Linked DNA regions of Homo sapiens. The protein of the gene in region 1 interacts with the protein of each later gene in a pairwise test. Each region holds a gene or a part of one and is shown on either strand. Other genes may lie near its edges.

Evidence for each region.
Region 2: the proteins of ATG7 (region 1) and RWDD2A interact in binary tests that used the Homo sapiens proteins (3 or more experiments, as listed by UniProt).

Annotation. Positions count from the first base shown.
Region 1 is NC_000003.12:11,359,328-11,363,243, reverse strand, and holds part of ATG7 (ubiquitin-like modifier-activating enzyme ATG7), read right to left. Parts: intron 2,664-3,916; coding exon 2,460-2,663; intron 432-2,459; coding exon 316-431; intron 1-315. UniProt on the Homo sapiens protein: E1-like activating enzyme involved in the 2 ubiquitin-like systems required for cytoplasm to vacuole transport (Cvt) and autophagy.
Region 2 is NC_000006.12:83,191,558-83,195,473, reverse strand, and holds the start of RWDD2A (RWD domain-containing protein 2A), read right to left. Parts: upstream 2,118-3,916; 5' UTR 2,031-2,117; exon of another isoform or gene 1,163-2,030; 5' UTR 1,023-1,162; coding exon 822-1,022; exon of another isoform or gene 206-821; coding exon of another isoform or gene 203-205; intron 1-202.

The DNA.
Region 1 (3,916 bases):
AAGATTGAAGGAGGCAAAATTTCTAAGGTGCTTAGAACAGTGCCTAGCACAAAGTAAGCCCTATATAAGCGTTGGAAAAATAAAATAAACCATAGTGACTTTGTCCGGAAAGATGCAGAAATGTGGCCACAAAGGAAACATGCCAAGTTATCTCAGCCCAAAGAACCAGACCTGCTTTTTCTAGTCTTGTTTTTTTGAGGGTGAAATAGTGAAATTCTCTGTAAAGTCAGACTGAGAAAAGGCCATGGGAGACACTGATGAACAACTGCCTACAAAAGCTTTGTTTAAATACTCATCTCCTACTAGCAAACTCACCCTTCTGGATGCTGCAAAACAGATACCATCAATTCCACGGCCAGGGCTCCTGCAATCACGGCCAGTCCTGGACGACTCACAGTGCACTGCTGGTCCAAGGTCCGGTCTCTGGTTGACTGCAAAGAAACAATCATTGGTGTGTGCAGAACGTTCTACTCCATTCAACTCTAGCTGTCTCAAGTATGAAATCCTCTGTGACAAAGCTTTAAATTATAACCAGATGCTCATTGTTGGCAAAGAACATCCAGCCTCAAGTACATCATTTCTTGAGATTATCAAGATAAACAAAATATACAATTTAGGTAACTAAATGAGGTGATATGCTAAAAAGGATCAGTAGCCTAAACAGATTGGGGGATATTAACCAAAAATGAGGGCTTAGCTGCCTCATATAATGGAACTGCATCATGTGTTCCTTTAAGTGACTCAATTCAGTTCTACTGTGCTTGGTAGTTAAGTGACAGAGACACAGAAAGGAACAATGATTTGAAAAGTGCAAATGATTCTGCCCTGCCATTTTAACTGAGCTAACACCTCAAAGTGACCGTGAGATGGGAGCAACAATTTACTATTCCTGCGGCCCTCAGTTCCTATGTGCCTCTCACAACATGGGCATCACCTCTCTGTGTGATTCTAGGGTTTACTACAAGTATTTTTTTTTTCTACAACATGGCTCTAAGCACAAGCCTTTGCTGGTTCAACCAAAGAGAGTCTAACCATCCAACTCTGGGCAAATTAAGAGGTTGTTAGAGATATTTTTGACTCTATAAAAATTTTACCTTATGAGCAGATGGGACTTTACTGCAAGGGACCACTAATCGTATTTGTTGACAATCACTAAATAACAAGACCAGCTATATATTATAACACCATAACAGAGATCATCAAGCCATCTTTCTCCATAAAAGAGAATGGTCATCTTCTTTTCTTTATATTGGGAGGGCATAAAAGCCAGTCATCCAAAAGAGATATGAGTTATTAAGGGAAAAGTTTTAAAACAAAGGAAAAATAGAGGGGAGGTTACAGAAAACATCTCTGCATTGTTTCACTGGAAATCGTTATCTGTTCTGATAAAGGAACAGACCTACATACAGACTGACTTGTGTGGAGTTCTGAAAGTCATAGAATCTTAATTTGTACAGTGTAGTCTTGCTGTTCAAAGCACTGTCGCACTTGACCCACTTTGCACTGTGAGTTGACAGGGCAGGTATTCTTCCCTCCTCTATTAGCATTGCTAGGGAGAATACAAGACACTCAGTTAAATTTGAATTTCAGATAAATAAATTTTTAGTATAAGTGGGTCTTGAATATTGCATGGGACATATACCAAAAAATTATTCATTATTGGCTAAGCGTGGTGGCTCACACCTGTAATCCCAGCACTTTGGGAGACTGAGGCAGGTGGATCACGAGGTCAGGAGTTCGAGACCAGCCAGACCAACATGGTGAAACCCCGTCTCTACTAAAAATACAAAAATTAGCTGGGCATGGTGGCACACACCTGTAATCTCAGCTACTCAGGAGGCTGAGGCAGGAGAATCACTTGAACCCAGGAGGCAGAGGTTGCAGGGAGCCGAGATTGTGCCACTGCACTCGAGCCTGGGTGACAGGGCGAAACTCTGTCTCAAAAAAAAAAAAAAAAGAATTCATTATTAACTGAAATTCAAAGTTAGCTGGGAATCCTATATTTTTACTTACTAAATCTGACAAGCCTACACATCACTCCTATTTTGCAAAGGTAGAGGGAACCTAAGAGACTTTTTAGAACTACCTGGGAGGCAGTGTCAAGCCATTGATGGAATCTGGTCTTTAGACTCCTGATTTGTAATGTTATCTTGACTAAGAGAAGCACCGGAGACAATACGGAGTGCTATCAGGGACTAGTCTGCTGTGGTTTCCTCAATAAGCTTTCCAAAAATATGGTTTGTAGCCGCGTTTATATTGGTGAACAAGGAACAGGTGTACAGTTGATGACGCCAGTCAAGGTTCATAATGAGATAATGCCATCCTCCCCAAATTGGAGAATTCTTCTCTTTGTTAAAAGATAATATTTAAATAGTCATAAATGAAAGGGCCAAGTCGGTCTGCCTCAGTGTACAAGTTGGTGATAGGAAATATTTGGAACTATAGAGAAATCCACTTACATCTCCTGGGGCCACCACATCATTGCAGAAGTAGCAGCCAAGCTTGTAACCAGGGATGTTGGCAAAAAGCGATGAGCCCAGGAGGTCAGCAGATGCCACAGGGTGGTTTGGACACAAGTCCCCAGCTCCTTGCTGCTTTGGTTTCTTCAGACCATGTCTCATGACAACAAATGTGTCAAATCCCAAAGCAGCATTGATGACCAGCTGCAGGTTTCAAGGAATGAAAGAGCAGAGTTAAAAGACACATATATTTCAAGCTGTGGCTAATTCCATATTTGCTCAACTTTTTAAAATTTATTTTTTGCATGTAAGTGTAATTAGATTATAAAAGCTAATGATGATAAAATCTACCCACTACTGAGGGCTTATTAATTACAAAAGACTTGATAAGTGATGAACATAAATTATCTCATTTAATTTCATTTGAAACTCATAACAGACCAGGTATAGTGGCTCATAACCTGTAATCCCAGCACTTTGGGAGGCCAAGGCGGGCAGACTGTCTGAGGTCAGGAGTTCGAGACCAGCCTGGCAACATGACGAAACCCTGTCTCTATTAAAAATACAAAAAATTAGCCGAGCATGATGGCTTGCGCCAGTAGTCGCAGCTACTCAGGAGGCAGAGGCATGAGAAATGCTTGAACCTGGGAGATGGAGTTTGCAGTGAGCCGAGATTCCGCCACTGCACTCCAGCCTGGGTGACAGAGCAAGATTCTATCTCTGAAAAAGAAAAAAGCAAACAAAAAAACTCATAACAAACATTTCTTATTTATAGATGAGGATACTGAAAGTCAGAGAAGTTAGTTCTATAACTTGCCCAAGGTCACTTATCTGGCAAGAGGTAGGTATATAAAACCAAGTCTACATAGTTCTCAAACACATTCTTTCCACCATTATGCTATACTGTCATGTTCACATAGATTTGTTTTTATAACAGCTTTATTGAGATATAACTCACATACCATATAATTCACCCTTCACATAGAATTTTTTTGGTATCCCAGTAGCTGGAATTACAGGCACATGCCACCATGCCTGGCTCCGCATAGTTGGTTTTTTTTTGTTTTTTTGTTTCTTTGGGGTTTTTTTGAGACAGGATCTCACTCCGTTGCCCAGGCTGGAATGCAATGGCGTGATCTCGGTTCACTGCAGCCTCAACCTCCCAGGCTCAAGTGATCTTCCTGCCTCACCCTCCTGAGTAGCTGGGAGCACGGGTGTGCATCACCACACCTAGCTAATTTTTTGTTTTTCTTCTAGAGAGAGAGTCTCACCATGTTGCCCAGGCTAGTCTCAAACTCCTGGGTCAAGCAATCCTCCCAAAGTGCTAGGATACAGATGTGAGCCACCATGTCCAGCCCAACACATAAATTTTTAAGAAACCGTTTTTTCATTATACTATAACAACTTTTCATAGTTCTAATTTAACTTATTATCCCAAATATCTGATTATATAGAAA
Region 2 (3,916 bases), on another chromosome or scaffold:
ACATGATTGCTTCCTTTTATGCATTATTTCAATATTTATTGAACAACTACGTGTGCCAGGTGCCCTTGTGCTGGGATAAAAAAGTGAATAAACCAGACACTATTTTTGCCCTTCATGAAGTCCAGGGCCTAGTGAAGGAGACACACATTAAACAAATAATTACATATAGCAAGTATTTAATTTCAATTGTGAAAAGCATTACCATGGAAAAGTGGAGGGTTCCATTGAAGTGTGTAACCAGCGGGACAGAATCCAGTCTGGAGAACCAGAAAGTCTCCTCTGAGGGAATAACAACTGAAGGATGAGTAGGAAATAGCTACAACAGTGGTTCTCAAATGCCCAGTCCACGTATTACCTATGCTATGCTAATGTTGCTGGAGATAAATGGATCAGAAGATGGAGGTAAATTCATTTTTAGTCTTTAGATTTTTCCATCCATATTTGCTTTCTGTGTTATGGTGCCATCAAAAAATCCACTCATTCACTCCTTAAAAGACAGTTATGTTACAGGAGATATTTAGATTTATGAAAATCATGATACATGTGAAAGGTAGTCCAACTGGATGGGTGAACAAAATAATAATGGCATAAGACTGCAAGATAGCGTCAATAAAAACTCCAGGTATATTTGTTAAAAAGGTGTATATGTTTACATAAAATTAAAGATATTTACTGAAGACAATTTATAGAGCATTCCGTATCTTTCAAACAAGGAAATATGCACCTGGAATATTTCTATCTTTCCTTGACAGAAAGCTCATGTTCTAGATGTTTCAATTAAAAACTGGGCACCTGGCAAACACTTAAATCAGGGTACCTACCTTGGGCTCTTCAATCTGGAGTGTAATTACAAATTCGATTTTTGGTGGCAGCGCCTCCCTTGTGCCTTCCAAATACCTCTTTATATTCGTCAGGGCATTTACATCTTCAAGTTTTACTTCTCCTTGGTTAGGAAACATAGAAAACAGCATTTCCATCTCCAGTAGCTGAAGCTGAAGGCTTTCTTTCACCGAAGCAGACATGTTGCCTCGCAATCAGCCTGCCTGGAAACCTCACAAGGCTCAGGGACGCTGGGTTTGTCAATGCCAGCCGGTATCCAGCGAAATTTCCCGAAGGTCCCTTTACGTGGAAGCAATTCTGCAGGAACGCTTTGCACCGAGAGCTAGGGGCACAAACCAGACACTTGCACTCTTCTTTATTTCCTGACTCCAAAATCTAGTATGCACAACATCCTCTAAAACACTCCGTAAAAACCCATATTCTGCGTACCCGGGCTCCGGGTTCCCGCCTCCCGCACCCCGCACTAGATAGGGGAATCTGCACTTTCAACAGGTGTTTGGAACTGTCCCGCTGCAGGTGGCAGGCAGACACCTGCAGACGCTCTGCAAGCCTGAATTCTGGGAAAGGCTGGGGCCCGGCTTCCAATCCCACCCGGGGCTCGGGCTTGGGCGGAGCCAGACGCTGCGGCGAGAGAGGCCGCAGTGCCAGCAGGATGGGCTCCGAGTTCCCCAGCGCCAGTCGCCACCCCTCGGTCCTGGACTCGCGGACCGCCCCCCCCCAACACCGCGGTGGCCTTTTCGCTTGGGCCGCATTCCAGGGCTCCGGACGTTTACGATTCACTGGCCTCTGCCCCGAGGGACCCAGGATAAGGGTAGGGGGTGTCTCAGAGGTCATTAAATAAAAGATGTTTACAGTGAGCTGGGGGAAGGGGGTACCCGGGGAGACGGCAGCCGGAGAAGGCTTCCCAGATTCAAAGGTTTGGGAGATGACCTCGACGTCGGAGAGGGGGATGCGGGCCGCCGGCGGCGCTCACTGTGGGCGAGGTCGCCCTGTCCGAGGCCCAGCGACGGGGCTGATTCCCCACCCCCGCCCCTAGCCAAGACCACTAGGAACCCCGGCTTCCCAGGAACGCAGGGCCTGCCGCCCCCAGAGGCCCGGATTTGGAGGCGGAGGCTGTGCCTCCGCGGCCGCAGTGCTCTGAGGGCCCGCGACCCTCGGCCCCAACCCCCGGGCCACCGCGGGGGCCTCACCCTTTCTGGTCACTCAATGGTAACAGCCCCAGACCCCGCTCGGAACCGCAGCCGCAGTTCCTCAGGCGCCAGCTGCGCGCGACCTGCGGCGAGGCGGGGGCGGGGCTGGCGGATAGTCCTCTGCCGTGATTGGCCAGGGGGCGTGGCGACGAGCCGGAAGCCACGCAGGGCCACGTCTGCGGTTCTGAGGACTGGGTTTGGGTGCAGACGTTGTTGCTTGGGCGCTTCTCCGCTGCGTGTAGGTGAAGGGGGCTTCCTGACCGAGGTAAGCCGGGCCCCGAGGCTCGGAGTTGAGAAGGGAGACTACCGGTCGGCAAGGGCTCGGTGGGAGCGGGACAGGTCAGATTCTCGGCCCGACGGAGGGGCTAGTGGTCTGGCGGGCGACTGACCGAGCGGCGGAGCGCGCGGGACACACCTACAGGCCCCTGCGCCCCGCGGGCGGGCTGGTCGGGACGGGCCGCGGGTCTCCTGCCGGGGCTCTGGTACGTGGACCTAGGCGGGGACCTCAGGGTGGAGTGCCGGGAATCACCCTTGTGCGGTGATTCGAGGGTAGGCGGGAGAGAGGCACCAAGGAGATTTGAAGATTGAATGGAGAGTAGGGGGATACTCTTAACTTTTTGCGTGGACGCTGGATTTGGCAAATATGCTTTCAATAAAGGCATTCGCAGAGGCATTGAAAGTAGTTGTAGGGCCTAAAACGCATGAAAGGATGAACTCATATTATCTGGACCTTTTTTTTTTTAATGGCTTTTTGGAGTTAACAGGACTGGTTTACACTCTTATGAATAATCATGACACATAACTGACTGCTCAGTTTTTACAAATATGTATTCATCCTTAGGAAAGAGATCTGATCACTGTCTTGAACTAAATTAGTTTACTGAATGCCAGCTTTTTCCAACTGGACAAAAGCAAGTATTTTTCACCATTTCTTGCAAGTTCTGTTCATTGAAGCAATGAAGGACAATAAAGAAAACAAAATTATGAGGCTAGCAGCTGGCGGACTGCTCCTCATCTCTGGGCTAATTGGGAATTAATTGACCCAGGAAATGTAGTATATGGACTACTGAAGGAAAACTACTGACTGAGGTTGGAAACCCCAAGTTCCACTTAATGGGAGTATCCCAGAGAAAACAGTATTAGTGGGCTAAGGGCCGATTTTTTGTTGTTGTTTGTTTTGAGACGGAGTCTCACCCTGTCGCCCAGCCTGGAGTGCAGTGGCGCGATCTCGGCTCACTGCGACCTCCACCCGCGGGTTCAAGCGATTCTCCTGCGTCAGCCTCCTGAGTAGCTGGGACTACAGGCGCGCACCACCACGCCAGGCTACTTTTTGTATTTTTAGTAGAGACAAGGGTCTCACCATGTTGGTCAGGCTGGTCTTGAATTCCTGACCTCGTGATCCGCCCGCCTTGGCCTCCCAAAATGCCGGGATTACAGGCCTGAGCCACCTCACCTGGCCTGTTTTTTTTTTTTTTTTTTTTTTTTGAGACCGAGTCTCCCTTTGTCACCCAGGCTGGAGTGCAGTGGCGCGATCTCGGCTCACTGCAACCTCTGCCTCCCGAGTAGCTGGGATTACAGGCGCCAGCTAACACGCCCGACTAATTTTTTTGTATTTTTAATAGAGAGGCGGTTTCGCCATGTTGGCCAGGCTGGTTTCAAACTCCTGACCTCAGGTGATCCGCCTGCCTTGGCCTCTCAAAGTGCTAAGATTACTGGCGTGAGCCACCGCTCCCGGCCGATGTTTTATTTTTAAAAGTAAAGGAAAAAGGTGGCATTCTTTCAGAAGAAGATATTGCTAGTTTTAGAGCAACATCTTAGAAGGGTGTCCTGATTGTTTTTAGCAAATGGAAAAAGATCTGGGTAGTCTTGGAGAAGAAACTGTTGCC